Homo sapiens: one gene and its partner. The protein of the gene in region 2 interacts with the protein of the main gene of each other region in a biochemical or structural test. Each region holds a gene or a part of one and is shown on either strand. Other genes may lie near its edges.

Evidence for each region.
Region 1: of the proteins of SEPTIN4 (region 2) and AREL1, one has a biochemical effect on the other in vitro, tested with the Homo sapiens proteins (one study listed by BioGRID).

What each region holds. Positions count from the first base shown.
Region 1 is NC_000014.9:74,709,748-74,718,008, forward strand, and holds the start of AREL1 (apoptosis-resistant E3 ubiquitin protein ligase 1), read right to left. Parts: upstream 3,334-8,261; 5' UTR 3,186-3,333; intron 1-3,185. Other genes in the region: rRNA-processing protein FCF1 homolog, read left to right, coding at 3,451-3,453, 3,738-3,805, 5,125-5,196, 6,204-6,352. UniProt on the Homo sapiens protein: E3 ubiquitin-protein ligase that catalyzes 'Lys-11'- or 'Lys-33'-linked polyubiquitin chains, with some preference for 'Lys-33' linkages.
Region 2 is NC_000017.11:58,541,246-58,548,645, forward strand, and holds the start of SEPTIN4 (septin-4), read right to left. Parts: upstream 3,084-7,400; 5' UTR 2,942-3,083; coding exon 1,381-2,941; intron 722-1,380; coding exon 677-721; coding exon of another isoform or gene 521-676; exon of another isoform or gene 339-520; intron 1-338. UniProt on the Homo sapiens protein: Filament-forming cytoskeletal GTPase. Pro-apoptotic protein involved in LGR5-positive intestinal stem cell and Paneth cell expansion in the intestines, via its interaction with XIAP. May also play a role in the regulation of cell fate in the intestine.

The DNA of each region.
Region 1 (8,261 bases), on a different chromosome or scaffold from region 2:
AAATAAATGTAAAAACTATAACTTGAAAATGGACAAAAAAGTGAATCTACTTATAACTTTCTAACATTGAAATACAAGATGTTCTTTAAGGAGTCTTTCATTATCCAGAATAATTTTACAAAGAAATTTGATACCAACTTAAATTAGTAAGTTAGACCAATTAGTGAATGGAATGAAGTCCAAGCCCAATTATGTGTTCAAACTGTGTGTCCAATGCCTTGGGTGATTTTTTCTCTTCAAGACTGCAGAAAAATGCAAAACAACCCTCTTGACTGCTGAGAAGGACTAAAATCATTTCTTTTCCTCACAAGTATGTGCCCAAAAGCAATTACTTTCTGCTCCCATCCATCACAAATCAACACTACCTCCCAGCTTCGCATCCCCCACTTTCCATCCCCATCAAAGAATGCTGTAGAGTATCTGACCACTTTCATTTCACGCTATAAGAACCTCAGATTGCAATAAAATTACAATGCAACAAAAACAAATTTTTCTAAGTATGTTCTTATCCCCCATGGTGTTCCTACACTAATTTAGCTCCCTATTAGGTATTAACAATCAAGGAAATCAGAACACTCTCAATAGAGGTTACAATAGAAATTACAAATGGCCTTTTTTTAAGTTGTTGTTGTTCATGGATTCCAAAATTCAAAGTACACATTACCAGAAGAGCGTTTTTCTGTCAGTGCCTAAATTTAAATGCAAATTACTATTTAATGATATGCAATTTTCCCTCTGAACCTATATATAATACTAATGAGTCAAATGTTTAAGAAGAATAACTGACCATGTTATTTTAGCTTTTAGACAATAAAAAGCTTATTGTCTAATCACCAAGAGATACATCAAAAAACTGGTTGCTATTAGCTCTACACATGAATGGCAGCTTGACAGAGACAAGCTGCTCCAGAAAGATTAGGAACTTCTAGTGACCACAAATGGGGTAAAGCAGAAGGCACATACAGTATCTGTAGCTACCATTTCTACATCAAAAATTCAGTGCCCACAGATATGTAAACTATTAAGCCATCTAAATGAATGTGTGCCTGAAAGAGAAAGGAGAAGCAGAAAAAGTTTACACCCAAATCAACAGAAGAAATCACCCTGCGATTGAGCATCCCAGGACCTGAAAACTTAATGTTTTGAGGTTTATGAACACGTTCAAGTTCCAGTGCAACTATGTTAAAATAAAATTGGGCTGGTGCCAGGCACGGTGGCTCACGCCTGTAATCCCAGCACTTTGGGAGGCCAAGGTGGGCGGATCACCTGAGGTCGGGAGTTCAAGACCAGTCTGACCAACATGGAGAAACCCCGTCTCTACTAAAAATATAAAATCAGCCAGGCGTGTTGGCGCACGCCTGTAATCCCAGCTACTCAGGAGGCTGAGGCAGGAGAATCGCTTAAACCTGGGAGGTGGAGGTTGCAGTGAGCCGAGATTGCGCCATTGCACTCCAGCCTGGGTAACAAGAGCGAAACTAACTCCGTCTCAAAAAAAAAAAAAAAAAATTGGGGCTTGGCACAGTGGCTCACGTCTGTAATCCCAGAACTTTGGGAGGCCGAGGTGGGCAGATCACCTGAGGTCAGGAGTTTGAGACCAGCCTTGCCAACATGGTGAAACCCATCTCTATTAAAAATACAAAAATTAGCAAGGTATGGTGGCACACACATGCCTGCAGTCCCAGCTACTCGGGAGGCTGAGGCAGGAGAATTGCTTGAACCTGGGAGGGGGAGGTTGCTGTGAGCCGAGATTGCGCCACTGCACTCCAACCTGGGCAGCAGAGGGAGGCTCTGTCTCAAAAATAAAATAAAATAAAATAAAATAAAATTGGCATAAAATTCCAACCCTGCCACACATCCTCAAGTTGGAAGACACACAATGGTAACAACAGAAAACACTCTGAGTAGTCTGGTTTACACTCTTCTAGGGACCTCGCATGTTAACTATGAATAAACATAAGTCCTGATAACATCCCAATAAAAGAGTGCTACTATGATTATCTCCATTTTACAGATAAAGAAACTGAGATGCAGATAGATTAACTCACCCAATGTCATGGCGAGTTATAAGGCAGAGCAAGGATTTTAACCCCATCAGTCAGACTCCAAAGTTCGTGTTAAACAATAAACGTGTTTTCATCATAAGGGTTATACAATGGTCACCTTCTTTTTTAAACCTGATAACATATTTTACTTCCAACTCTAGGATAGCATCATGCAATAAGAAAAGTATGACAGAGGTACCCATTCCGTTCCCAGCTTGATCAGTAGCTGGAGAATGGAAGACAAAGTGCAAAAAAAAAAAAAAAAAAAAAAAAAAAAAGAAAAAAAAAGAAAGAAAGAAAGAAAGAAAAAGAAAAAAAGAAATACAAGTACAGACTTTGGAATCACGAGACTCAAACAGACCCCTGAACAAAGTCTGGGGCTCAATTTCCCCATATGTAAAATAAAAGAATTTATGTTATTGAGAAGGTCAAAGAAGGTAATATGAATAAAGTGACAAGTACAGTATACAGGATGGGGGTTTTCATTTAAAGTTTACAGACACCCAGAGGGTCCACGGATGGGCTTCAGAGTCCACCAATCTCATTAAGTGTATTACAAACTGTATGTGTGCCCATTTTTTAAAGAATTGTTCCTGGCTTTCCACAAACTTTCAAGAAATAAGTTATCTCCAAAAAGTTAAGAACCACTGGAATACATAGCAGGTACTCAAAGAAAAAAGCTACCTTTCGCTCCTTGTTCTCACAAATTCTCCCTTTTTACTTAAAGATGACACACCAAGGCTTCACAATAAATGTGCATTGTATCTCACCATTTTCTTGGCTTGGGTAAGTAGTAACATATGCAAGCTTATGCCCCAATTCTCTAGCGATAGTCTAGGCCCTCAAACACTGCTTCATTTCTCTCTTCACCGAGAGGAGTACACGGTATATACTCGAGAACAATCATCCACCTAGCTGCACAAAGCACCATATCGGCTAGGAAAACCAAATAGGAACCACAGCCTCAGGGCTGGACCATAGACACCGGATACCCCAACGCTACAGGGTGAGGAGAATGTGTTCCCCCAAACTACTGGGCAAACCAGGAGTCTGAACCCCCCTACCCTTTTCCTCCCTCTCTCTCTGGAACTCTGGTAAAGGCAGGTCTTCTGGGCTCTGCCTAAGGCTGGAGAGAAACGTTACCCGAGCCGGGGGTTGCAGCGCGACGAAGTTCCACCTCCGCTGTCCTGGGAAGGGGCGGCAGCACTCAGCAGAAGACGGGCTCCCCACTCTCCCACCAACAGACCCCAGAGTTGGTCTCCACCCGGCCTGGGAACCGGCTCGGGGGATTGCCCTTTCCCCAAGGAGTTTCCGCTTCCGGGCTATCCTTTGCCGGAAGCAGTATGTGAATGACGTAGAAGTATTGCGCCGTTGGTGATTACGGAAGAACCAGGAGTTTGGCGTGACCATGGTGAGAGAAGACGGTCCAAGAAGGGACGTTATCAGGCCACTTTTTGGGTGGAGAAGGAGGTAGTCAGACCGTGGCCAAATTTCCTTCACATTATCCTAGCATATTTTCATTCTGGTCTTAGCTCTTAAACTTCTCCAAGCGGTGACTGTTATGCTTTACAGAGTGGGGAAGAGGGTCTGGGTTATTTGAGGCAAGAAGGGAAGGCAATAGACAAGAGAAAAGAAGAGACTTTAAAAGATGCCGTGTGTTTCCAACTTTTTTAATTCTAAAATTTCTGTTTCAAGGGGAAGCAAAAGAAAACAAGGAAGTATGCGACCATGAAGCGAATGCTTAGTCTCAGAGATCAGAGGCTGTGAGTGTCTGGAATCAACTGCCCAGGGATATTCTAATAAGAGTCTAGAGAGGATAAGTAGTAAAAATGTTTGTTGTTATTATTTTGTTTTTTGCTTATTATCGTGTCTTAGATTTATATAGCATGAGATAGCCAGTGTTTAACAGTAATTTAGCTGCTGAGCGATCACACTGGGAAAGGCGATGGGAATTAAACATTTCTTAAGTGTTCACTTTTTCTACCGTTATATGCTTTGTCTGCCATATCGCATTTAAACCTCATGTCAGTTCGGTGAAGTCCGTATAGTTCTCTTTATGTTTTTACCATTACACTACTACATTCCCCTGGGGTGGGGCGAGGGGAGTGTTTCTTGTTGAAAGATGGCAAGGTTAGAGACCTTGTTTGTCTGGCGTTTCCAGTGCCTGGTACTCAAATATTTTTGTCAGAGAAAATGGGAAAACTCCAAGATATCTCCATTTTATAAGTCTTACTAATATAAGAATCCAAATCACTGTGGAAGAAGAAAGTGAAGTGAAATTCCCTAGTATGAAGAGGATCAAAGCGGTGTCCCTGCTTAAGTGTAGAATAAGCATAGCTATTAAATAAAGACTGATCTTCACTGAGTTTAAGAGTCTCAGAAAGCCGGGCGCAGTGGCTCACGCCTGTAATCCCAGCACTTTGGGAGGCTGAGGCGGGTGGATCACCTGAGGTGAGGAGTTCAAAACCAGCCTGGCCAACACGGTGAAACCCTGTCTCCACTAAAAATACAAAAAAGAGTCTCAGAATAAGAGAATAGTCGTTAAAACCTTCAGAATTATTATTCTCAGCCTTTAGTGTGGATGTATTGTGTAATTTTTAGGAATGACACTCCATTAATAATAATTTCTTTCTAGTTAAGGGTTAAGTTCTGTATATGCGTTTTTACATTTTAGCCCTTTATAAGAAGCATATGGGGTAATACTTTTCCCCCAAAAGTTAAAGCATCTGAATCTTCAGAAGATAACTGTCACCCTTTTACCCATTGCTTGGAAGTGGATTGTGATCCTTGATGTGAGAGATTCTGACTAAAAAATAAATATAGTATAATCAGCTTTTATTTACTCATTAACAATTCTTATGCATTATTGGCATTACTGGTTAATTCTGATACTTCCAGGTACTGTGCTTTGCACTAGAGTTATTTGCTCAGAAAGAGTATGCTGATATTAACATGAGGATATCACAAAGTAGGATTTCTTCAGTAGACCAAAAAAAAAAAAAAATGGAACTTTAGATTTTTGAGATTTTAATTGCTGTGGTTTTTCTTCTCCCTTGGATTTAATTTACCTTTTTCTTCCTAGTAAAGAAAAGGATAGATTAAAACCTAAAAAGAAAGAAAAGAAGGATCCCAGCGCATTAAAGGAAAGAGAAGTGTGAGTAATCAAACGTTTGAAGTTTTCCTTTAAAACCATAGACCTCTTAGAAATCCAGGCTTTCCCTGAGCTGGTTTGCTAACTTATTTGTTAGTAAGTCTAGCACAACTATGTAGATGAAAGTCATATCGATGAGCATATATCAATTCTAGTGGTTTGAAGGTTTTGGGATTTTATGGAGCAGTAAAATTTCCCCTAAAATCCTGGAGATATTATCTAGGATTATTAACTTTTTCTTTGCCAGGGATCTTTTAAGAGACATAAGTGCCATTGTTTAACACACCAGCAGTTCATAAAAGAGAGACTGTATCACCAAAAAATATTTAAAATATATTTTCAGAATAAAGATATTTATATAAAGATATGACCTTTATATAAAGATATAAAGGTATTTCATTCCTTTTAAGTAAGTACATTTAACTTTATGAAAACTTTACCACATTTTCCTTATTTTTCTAATTTTTCCCTGGATTGGTAATGGACATATTATCACAGGTAGATACTGATCCATGGCCTAGCATTTGGAATCACTGTCATATTCAACCCAGACAACTTGGGCTAGATGTGATACAGGTCCTGCTGTAGTATATAATCCTAACACTAGACAAACTGTTCTCTATCACATTCCATAACAGCAGTTTTAGAATCCTTTAAGAATGACAAACGTGTTGTTGTATCATTCTAATCACGATAACTGTATTCTACCTCCCTGTGCCCATGGTGATTCTACTTTTGCTAGAGGAAGAGCTAGATTGGATAATTGCTTTTTTTGTTTGTTTGTTTTTGATAATTGCTTTTTTAAAGTTGGTGACAAAGGTTGCCAGGGGAGCTGAGATTAAGATAATGATATTACTTTCTTCCTTGCCTTCCTTTTTAGGATTTATTTCCAATGAACATGGACAAAAGAGTTTACAGCAAACAGTCCCAAGCAGACTTCTTTTTTGTTTTTGTTAATACTAGGGTATCAATGTAAATTTTTCTTTGTTCTTGTTTTCTTTTTCCTTCAGTCCCCAACACCCTTCCTGCTTATTTTTCCAATATAATACACAGCTGGGCCCACCTTACCACATCCTCGTTGATACCAACTTTATCAACTTTTCCATAAAAGCCAAACTGGACTTAGTGCAGTCAATGATGGACTGTCTGTATGCCAAGTGTGAGTATCATACTTTTATGTTTCCGTGACATTTGTTCAGAATAATTATATTTATACAAATACATGAAAGGAGGGAGATGGGGTTCTTGTTAACTGAATTGCTGGCCATTTAATTTACAGTGGTCACCATAGCAGTGACCATGTTTAATGAATTGAAGTATAATGCAAACTTGACTGGAAAAAATTAAACTTTCACAATTCAGAAAACACTTAGAATGCTTCGAGTATCATTATGGACATCAATTTTGAACATAGGGGAATTTTCTGTTTTAGAATTCTAGATTTTAAAATTCTAGATAAATGAAAAATCTATTTTTCAGTATCTATATTCTTTTATGTTAACAAGGATATGTTCTCCCTTTTGCCCCAGTGTTGAAACACTAAATAAGACATTCTGCCATTTATGATCACAGCCCTAGAAGTTAGATAGATGATGGTCAATTCCTAAGTTTATTCAGTTTGGTATTTATTCGTAGTACAGAGGATCTGAGGTAGTTTATTTACACCTAGGTATGCAATTTACCATTAATAGATTTCCCTTGTGTATTTGTATATCCCCTCCTTTAAATGATCTTCCTTCACTACCATGAACAGGAAAAAGAAAAGTAAGGCCATCTATGAAGCCTATCATAGTAAGATCTGTCCCATTTGTAGCGGGTTTATATTTATATATTTTTCAGTCACCCGGTTAGAGGTACGAATGAAAATTAGACTTAAACTTTGCCATAGAGGATAAATTACTGGAATCAAAGGGAAAAATTTGTACCTCCCTTTTTAAGTTTTAAAGGCTACTATATAATGAACAACAGTTGCAGAGTGATAGAAATGGTAAATGTTGTTTACTGATTTATTAAAATGAGCAAGATGAGAAGATGGGGTTAAGGAATGTGTGAAGGGGTAAGAAAGCAGATTCTTTAGATGCCCAAAAATTAATTAAGAATGGCTGCAGCCGGGCGCAGTGGCTCATACCTGTAATCCCAGCACTCGCGGTGGCTCACGCCTGTAATGCCAGCACTTTGGGAGGCCAAAGCAGGCGGATCATGAGGTCGAGATCGAGACCATTCTGGCCAACAAGGTGAAACCCCATATCTACTAAAAATACAAAAATTAGCTGGGCGTGGTGGCACGTGACTGTAGTCCCAGCTACTTGGGAGGCTGAGGCAGGAGAATCGCTGGAACCTGGGAGGTGGAGCTTGCAGTGAGCCGAGATTGTGCCACTGCACTCCAGCCTGGCAAGAGAAACTCCATCTAAAAAAAAAAAAGAATGGCTGCATACATTTATTAGCTGCATACGTTTATTAAGATGTGAAGGTAGCCATCAGATGAGAAAAAAATGGAGCTAATGGAATAAAATAGTCTTCTCTACAGATCAGAATTGATTGGGTGGCAATGGTCAGGGGACCATTGTTTTTTCATATAGGCCTTTCTGTATTACTTTTTAAAGCTATATACATAAACTTTTGAAATAAATCTTTTAGAAATAATCTAAAGTTGAGGTGCTACCAGGCCTCTAAGAATGAGGCTTGGGTGACCCCATATGGGGGAAGACACTAAACTTGGTAGTCTCTTTGTATTTCCCATGGTATTTCTAATTGAGCTGCTTCTCCAGGAATGCTGTGACCTACTTATCAATGAAACGGATAGAGGGTCAAAGCATGGCCCTTTGCTTCCTTGATGAATTGCTTCCTTGACTCTATACCTCCACCAGTAATATCTAGATAGTGACTGTTAGAGCTTTAGGCAGGATAGCTTTAGTCTTATGGCTTTCTTTAAATATGTATACTTTTTTTTTTGAGACAGGGTCTTGCTTTGTCACCCAGGCTGGAGTGCGTTGGCGTGATCTCAGCTCACTGCGACCTCCGCCTCCCAGGTTCAAGCAGTTCTTCTGCCTCAGCCACCCCAGTAGCTA
Region 2 (7,400 bases):
ATTTTGGGCCACAATGCTCACAGCAAGAAGTCCCTGCTGCCAAGATTTACTCCTTGAGGTCTTGTCCCCACCCTCCCCTGCCCCCAGAGAGGCCAAGAGTATAAAGGGAGAGGAGGGTCACAAGGCCTGGGGACACTTCTCTTAAGGATTCTAGAGCTGCAAGACACACTGATGGCCTCAAGGGGGAGGCCCAGACATCTCTGAAGATCTTGCCTGGGCAGCACCAATAAGTACCCCAGGTGGTAAACTTGGGGCATGAGGAGGGTTCTGAGGAACCAGAGAAACACATGAGAAGAGCCCCCAGCCTGAATTAGCGTGAAGTCAACTCTGAGCAAGACTGTGAAGCAGGCGGTTTGCTTTGGTGTATTTTTTAAAATCATGTGATAGATGACCAACTAAGCTGAAAAGGCCATGAGGCTTAAATTATTCTCCATTCCAGAAGTAACTTCCTGTTAAAAGGAGACTCTTGAAAATGGAAAAGGTTCCAAGCCCCAAAGAAATGACTCTAATGGTGAAATTTTCAGCAAGATGAGAAGTTCCTCTGCTTCTTCAGGTCAAAATCCCAGCATTTATCTCCTAAACGACCCAGCTCTGTAGATACATAGATGCCACTCCTCACCTGTCCTCCCATCCCCCAAGCTCCCACAGTGGGCCCATAGGAGGGAAAAGCACAGACCTTTTAGCCACCAGATGACACGATTGTACATTTCCTCAGAGACATCTGAAAGTAACAGAGAGATGGTTGCTTTTCTTCTCTCTGTGGGATGCACATCCCACTCTCCACTACTTGCAGCTCCCTTTCTAGCTCCACATTTCTCCACTCAAAGGTGCCCTCAGCCCTTGGTCCTCTCCAAGAAGCTCCTCCAGCCTAGGACTATATATCGTATTCCCACTCTCCCTTTCTCTTTTTTACACCCTCTCTCTGTGCCACTGTGAATGCCTTTCCCCTCCTGGAATCCCAGCTCATCTGCATCCCACCCTCTCCACTTTGTAGCCAGAGTATTTACCTGAGGCCCTTATTCTATTTAACAGCCCTTGCCAGCCCTCACCCCAGCTCAGTTCTTCATCCCCACTCAGGAAGCAGCTTTCAACCCTGCAAGCCCCTCTCTACTACCTTCAATTAAAAAGGTAAGCAGTGTTGCCTGGAGGAGTCAATGCCTGTCGCCCGGCCCAAGCATCCATCATCAATGTCATTAGCTTGGAGCACAGAGAAGCTGGCAGGGAAGGAATGGAGCAATAGGCTCAAGGATAGGACTAGCTTTGGCACTGGCAGGAGAGCAGCCCTTAGGCCCAGAATGAAGAGGTGGTCTTTCCTGCCCACCCCAACATCCCATCTCACTAAATTGGGGCTGCACCTGGGCAGTCTGCTTCTTCACATACCCAGGAAGAAAGCAGTAAACCTTTGAATGGGTTGTTTGCAGGTGTGCTTGGGGGTCTGTGGCACTTCACTCAGTGGTGCCCAACTTGGAAACTCCTTTGGTGGTGATGGTGGTGATAGGCTTGCCTTCTCTCTCTGGAACTTCAGATCCTCACAGAAAGGGCTAGAGTCTATTTTAAAACCGGACAATAAAAGATCTAGGGAAGGAGAGCACTTAGGCTCAAAATCCGGTGTTGTCAGCTGGCTTTGGGGTGTTTCAACTTCAGGATTCAGCAAGGGCCACCATGAGGAGTCAGGTCCGTACCTAGGTAAGGACCGAGGAGGCAAGGGCCTAGGGGTCAGTTCCAGTTCTGCATGGATGGAGGGCTTTTGCGAGAGTTCTGGATACCTGGGTGTAGGTCCTTGGGACATGTAAGTAATTTCTGGGGGTTTTTGGGTTTGCTGTTTATAGATGGGCTCTGGAGTAACAAACATGGATGACTTGTGGGAGCCCTCAGACACTGATGGAACTGTCACATGGTGAGTTGGCTCTACTGACTGTACCCCTGGGGAGATGGTGACCCTGCGGCCAACCTCGCTGTTTCCTCGGATTGGGGTCCTCACGTTGGACTCCACCTGTGATGATACTAAGACCTTTGCGGAGGGCTTGGTTTCAGGATAGGCAGAATACTTATGAAGAGACTCAGGGTCTACCCGTGCAGAAACTCGGTGTACACCATCAGAATCTTTAAGGACAGAGAGTTTGAGCAATGAGTCCAAGTTCATATTCCTATACAAGGCCTTGGGTTTTGAAGGAATTGGACCGTAAGGACCTGTTTCTGATTCTTCTACAGGGACCCTTCTCTGGGCTGTCTGATAGTCTGCAGAGACACAGCTGCTTCCGTGCTCTAGGAGAGAGGGACTCCTTGGAGATCTGATCTCACTAGTAGTCGTAATTCTTTGGATGGGCTCAGTTTGTACTGCTTCATCCTTTGGGTAAGACAAAATCCTACGGGGAACTCTGACTCCTTGGGGGTTCTGGACCTTGGATGGTGGGTCATCTTCTAAGATTTGTGATTGTAAGTTATTCTTCTGGTCTTGAAAACTCAACTGATGAGTAGATTTGGCATCTGGGATTGATGAAGCATGATGGCCGACCTCGCGCCCTGACTTGCTCTCACTGCCTCTTCGTGCTGCTTCCTCTCTGGGTGGACTAACTTTCCATTGTCTGCTTGAAGCATGGGAAGCCAGTGTCTGAGTCTTCTGGCTCTTTAGATGGGGAGAGGAATGGCGGGATGATTCTGTTCTTGGTCCAGTCTCGGGTCCCCGAGGAGTGGGTACTGCATAGTGTCCAGGTCCTGACTGGAGGGAGACAGATCGAGGGTAGTCTGATGCTGAATGGGGAGTGGTGGGATGTGCAGCTTCTGATCTTCGGTGGGAAGGGTTCAGGGAGACTGCAGCACTTCGATGGCTTGAGGCAAGAACGTACCCATGTCCCTGCTGAGGGGATGTGTTAGTAGTAACCTCAGACCCTCTCTGTGCTGAAACCGCTACCTTGGCCCCAGGTTTATTTGTCTTGACCATCTGATAGATTGTGCCCTTCTGAGTAGATCCCGTATTTTACTGGCTGGCTTGTATTCAGGATCCTAATGATGCCTGAATATTTACCCTGTTTTAAAGCTGCTGTTTCTTGGGCTCCCACAAAAGTGGCTGTTGTTCTAAGAGTGTCTCAAATAATCCCCTTAGCTACCTCTCTGTCTGGTGATGTCATAAAGGAAGGAGCTTCCTTCCTATTAAACATCCTAGTGTACAGCCACAATTCTTCACAGAATCCCAAAGAAGTACCTGAAAGGAATCTGTGGATTTGTCTTTGGAGTTATATCACCAAGCCTTTGGCAAGTTTTTAACAAAACTGGGATTTCCTTGTACATAGAGAAGGCTCCAGACCCTCCTTTACTCTCCCGAGATTCTAGAAATTCTCAGGACTCATCCAGAGAAGGAATCAGCCAGAAGATCCTATGAAGACAAGATCAAACCAAACACGCTGTGTTCGCCCCAGTTTTAATAAGGTACGAAGTACAAAGTTGCCCCAATTTTGTTTGAAACTGTACTGTATACAAGTTAAAAAAAAAAAAAAAAAGAGAGCTTCAGCTTTTTCCAGGTCTCATGGATTGTTTCATTGCTCCTGGGGTAAAAATCCAGGTTGCTCAAATAATAAAATTCTCACATTCTTGCTCCAGGAGAGTTTAGTGTTTTATTAATAAAAGGGATTTGCCATGTGCGGTGGCTCACGCCTGTAATCCCAGCACTTTGGGAGACCGAGGCGGGTGGATTGCCTGAGGTCAGGAGTTTGAGGCCAGCATGGCCAGCATGATAAAACCCCGTCTTTACTAAAAATACAAAAAAATTAGCCAGGCATAGTGGCAGGCACCTATAATCCCAGCTACTCAGGAGGCTGAGGCAGGAGAATCGCTTGAACCCGGGAGTTGGAGGTTGCAGTGAGCTGAGATTGTGCCACTTTACTCCAGCCTGGGTGACAAGAGCAAAACTCCATCTCAAAAAATATATATAAATAAAAACAAAATAAAAGGGATTTGGGCTGGGTGCAGTGGCTCACACCTGTAATCCCAGCACTTTGGGAGGCTGAGGCGGGTGGATCACCTGAGGTCAGGAGTTTGAGACCAGCCTGGCCAACATGGTGAAACCCCATCTCTACTAAAAATACAAATATTAGCCAGGCGTGGTGGTGCGTGCCTGTAATCCCAGCTACCCGTGAGGCTGAGGCACGAGAATCGCTGGAACCTGGGAGGCGGAGGCTGCAGTGAGCTGAGATCGTGCCACTGCACTCCAGGCTGGGTGACAGAGCAAGACTCCATCTCAAAAAAAAAAAAAAAAAAGAAAGAAAGAAAGAAAGAAGGAATTTGGAGTTAATCATTGGTTTCCATCATAAATGACTACAGGTGTACCTAGGAGAAATTACCTGCCTTCCCTGGGACTTGGTTTCTTCACCTGGAAACCACTGCCTGGTACATGGGTGTCACACAACAAATGTTAATGTCCTTTCTCATGATCCTGTCAGCTATCCAATCAGCCGGACTCCGGTTCTCTCTTGAAAAGTGACTTTCCAATTTGGATGACCATTTTGGAGGAGACTCTGTCACCTTTCTCTCCCTTTCACATGCTCTTTCTCTCATTCTCTCTTTTAGACATAGACTCTACCATATCCAAAATTCTATTATGAACTCTGAAGGGTCATTGAGATTATAGGATGGTCAGCTTCATTTTTCTTTTTTTTTTTTTATTTGAGATGGAGTTTCAAATAAACTGTGCCCAGGCTGTTGCCCAGGCTGCAGTGCAGTGGCGTGATCTTGGCTCACTGCAACCTCTGCCTCCCGGGTTCAAGTGATTCTCCTGCCTCAGCCTCCCGAGTAGCTGGGATTACAGGCGCATACCACCATGCCTAGCTGATTTTCTTTTTTTTAGTAGAGATGGGGTTTCACCATGTTAGTTAGGCTCGTGTCAAACTCCTGACCTCAGATAATCTACCCACCTCGGCTTCCTAAAGTGCTGGGATTACAGGTGTGAGCCACCGTGCCCAGCCAGTTTTAAGTATTTCTAAACCCTTTCTATTCCCCAAAATGAAAGCAGCTTTGGCTAGGTGTGGTGGCCCAGCCTGTAATCCCAACACTTTGGGAAACTGAGGTGGGCAGATCACTTTAGCTCAAGAGTTCGAGACCAGCCTGGGCAACATGGTGAGATCCCATCTCCAGCAAATAAATAAATAAATATTTTAAAAAATTAGAAAACAGTTTTACAAATAATTATAAAAAGTTGAAATCACCTAAGAGGACCCCGTTACTATTTTAATAAGCATCTTTCCACATTTCTTTCTATGCATTTACTATGTAGACATTTAATTATAAATTTACATAGTCTTATTATAAACTTCCCAGCATCCTAGTACTAGCATTATTCCATAACATGTTATGAATACCTTTCTGTCAATAAATCTGTATCTATGATGTAATTTCTAATTAATCCACTTATGGTTGTTCCAGAATGTTTCAAATGAGTCCTTTACTGCTGGACATTAAGTTGTTTCTTTTTTTTCTTGCTATGGTGCCCAGGCTGGAGTGCAGTGTCTGTTCATAGGCCTGAGCACAGCACACTAAAGCCTCAAAGCTTCTGGGCTCAAGTGATTCTCCTGTCTCAGCCTACTGAGTAGCCCACCTCATTTGGGTTGTTTCTAATTTTTCAATATTATAAACAATGTTGCAATAAACATACATTACTATAAATATATATTTGTGTATATTCCAATTTTCTCCTTAGGACAATAGTTCTAAATCCTGGCTGCACATTAGAATCACCTGGAGATCTTTCAAAGCCCATGCTCCACCTCAGACAAAATGAATCAGATAATTTGGGGGTAAGGCTTGAGCACCAGTATTTTTTTAAATGCCTCAGATGGTTCTAATGTGCAACCAGGGTATAAAGTTCTCTAAATCCTCTCTATTCAAAGTGTAGTCCGTGGACCAGCATCATCAGCACCACCTGGGAGCTTGTTAGAAATTCAGGAGCTTGGGGCCCACCTTGGACCTACTTAGTCAGAATCAGTATTTTAACAAGACCCTCAGGTGATACATATGTACAATAGAATCTGTGTCATACTGGTCTAAATGGAGTTTCTGGGTCAAAAAGTAGTCACATTTAAAATACATACTGACAAATATCCTCCAGAGAGGTAGTACCAATTTATACCCCCAACACAGTGAATGAAGATGTCTGTTTCCCCATACTCTCAGCAACCTTAGATGTTATCAATACTTGTCCTCCGCAATCAGTGAGGTAAAAAACAACCGTGTTTTAATTTGCATTTCTTTGATTACAAGTTAAACTGAACATCTTTTAATATGCTAATTGGCTGTCTGTACAGCTTCTTTTGTGAATTGTTCTTTGTCTATTTTTCTATTAAGGTGTTTGTCTTTTTCTTACAGGTTATTAGAACTCTTTGTATATTAGGGATATAAACTTTTTGTTTATCCAATATATTGCAATTATTTCCACCCAGTTTGTTGACTTTATCCTTGTCCAGACATTATTTGCAGTAAAGAAGTTTTACATTCTTAATTCCCAAACTTTATACTTTGGTATGTTTTTTGGACTATTTGGGTTTTTTGAGTTTTTTTGAGACAGGATCTTGCTCTGTCACCCAGGCTGGAGTGTGATGGTGTGAACACAGCTCACTGTGGCCTCAACCTCCTGGGCTCAAGTGATCCTCCCACCTCAGCCTCCCGAGTAGCTGGGACCACAGGCATGTGCCACCGCACCCAGCTAATTTTTAAATTTTTTGTAGAGATGTGGTCTCACTGTATTTCCCAGGCTAGAAACTCTCTATTATGTTCTATAATTCTTACCATTCTTATGCCAATGCCATACTGTTTATTGCAGCTTTATACTACACCTTAATATACGGTAGGACAAGTCCCTCCTCCTTACTCTTCTTTTGCAGCATTGTTTTCAACCATGCATTTATTAAAAGTCCTTTAATTTTACTCTACTATACAATTAGTAGTATCCAGTAGGAGAGTGGATTTTACTTATTTAACTCCCACAGGACCAACTTATTTCTGAGCTCTTGGGGGGCACCTCACTATAACCCACTTCCAATACCAACATATATGAGTACATAACATTACCATTAGCATTCAGAAAGAAGCCAAAAGTAATGTATTTGGAAAAGAGCAATTGAAATTTATTCCAAAAATTTCTTTTTTTTTTTAAAGACAGAGTCTCACTCTATTGCCCAGGCTGGAGTGCAGTGGCATGATCTAGGCTCACTGCAACCTCTGTCTCCTGGGTTCAAGCGATTCTTCTGCCTCAGCCTTCTAAGTAGCTAGGATACAGACGTGCACCACCACGCCCAGTTGATTTTTGTATTTTTAGTAGAGAGGGGGGTTTCACCGTGTTGACCAGGCTGGTTTCGAACTCCCGACTTCAGGTGATCCACCTGACTTGGCCTCCCAGAGTGCTGGGATTACAG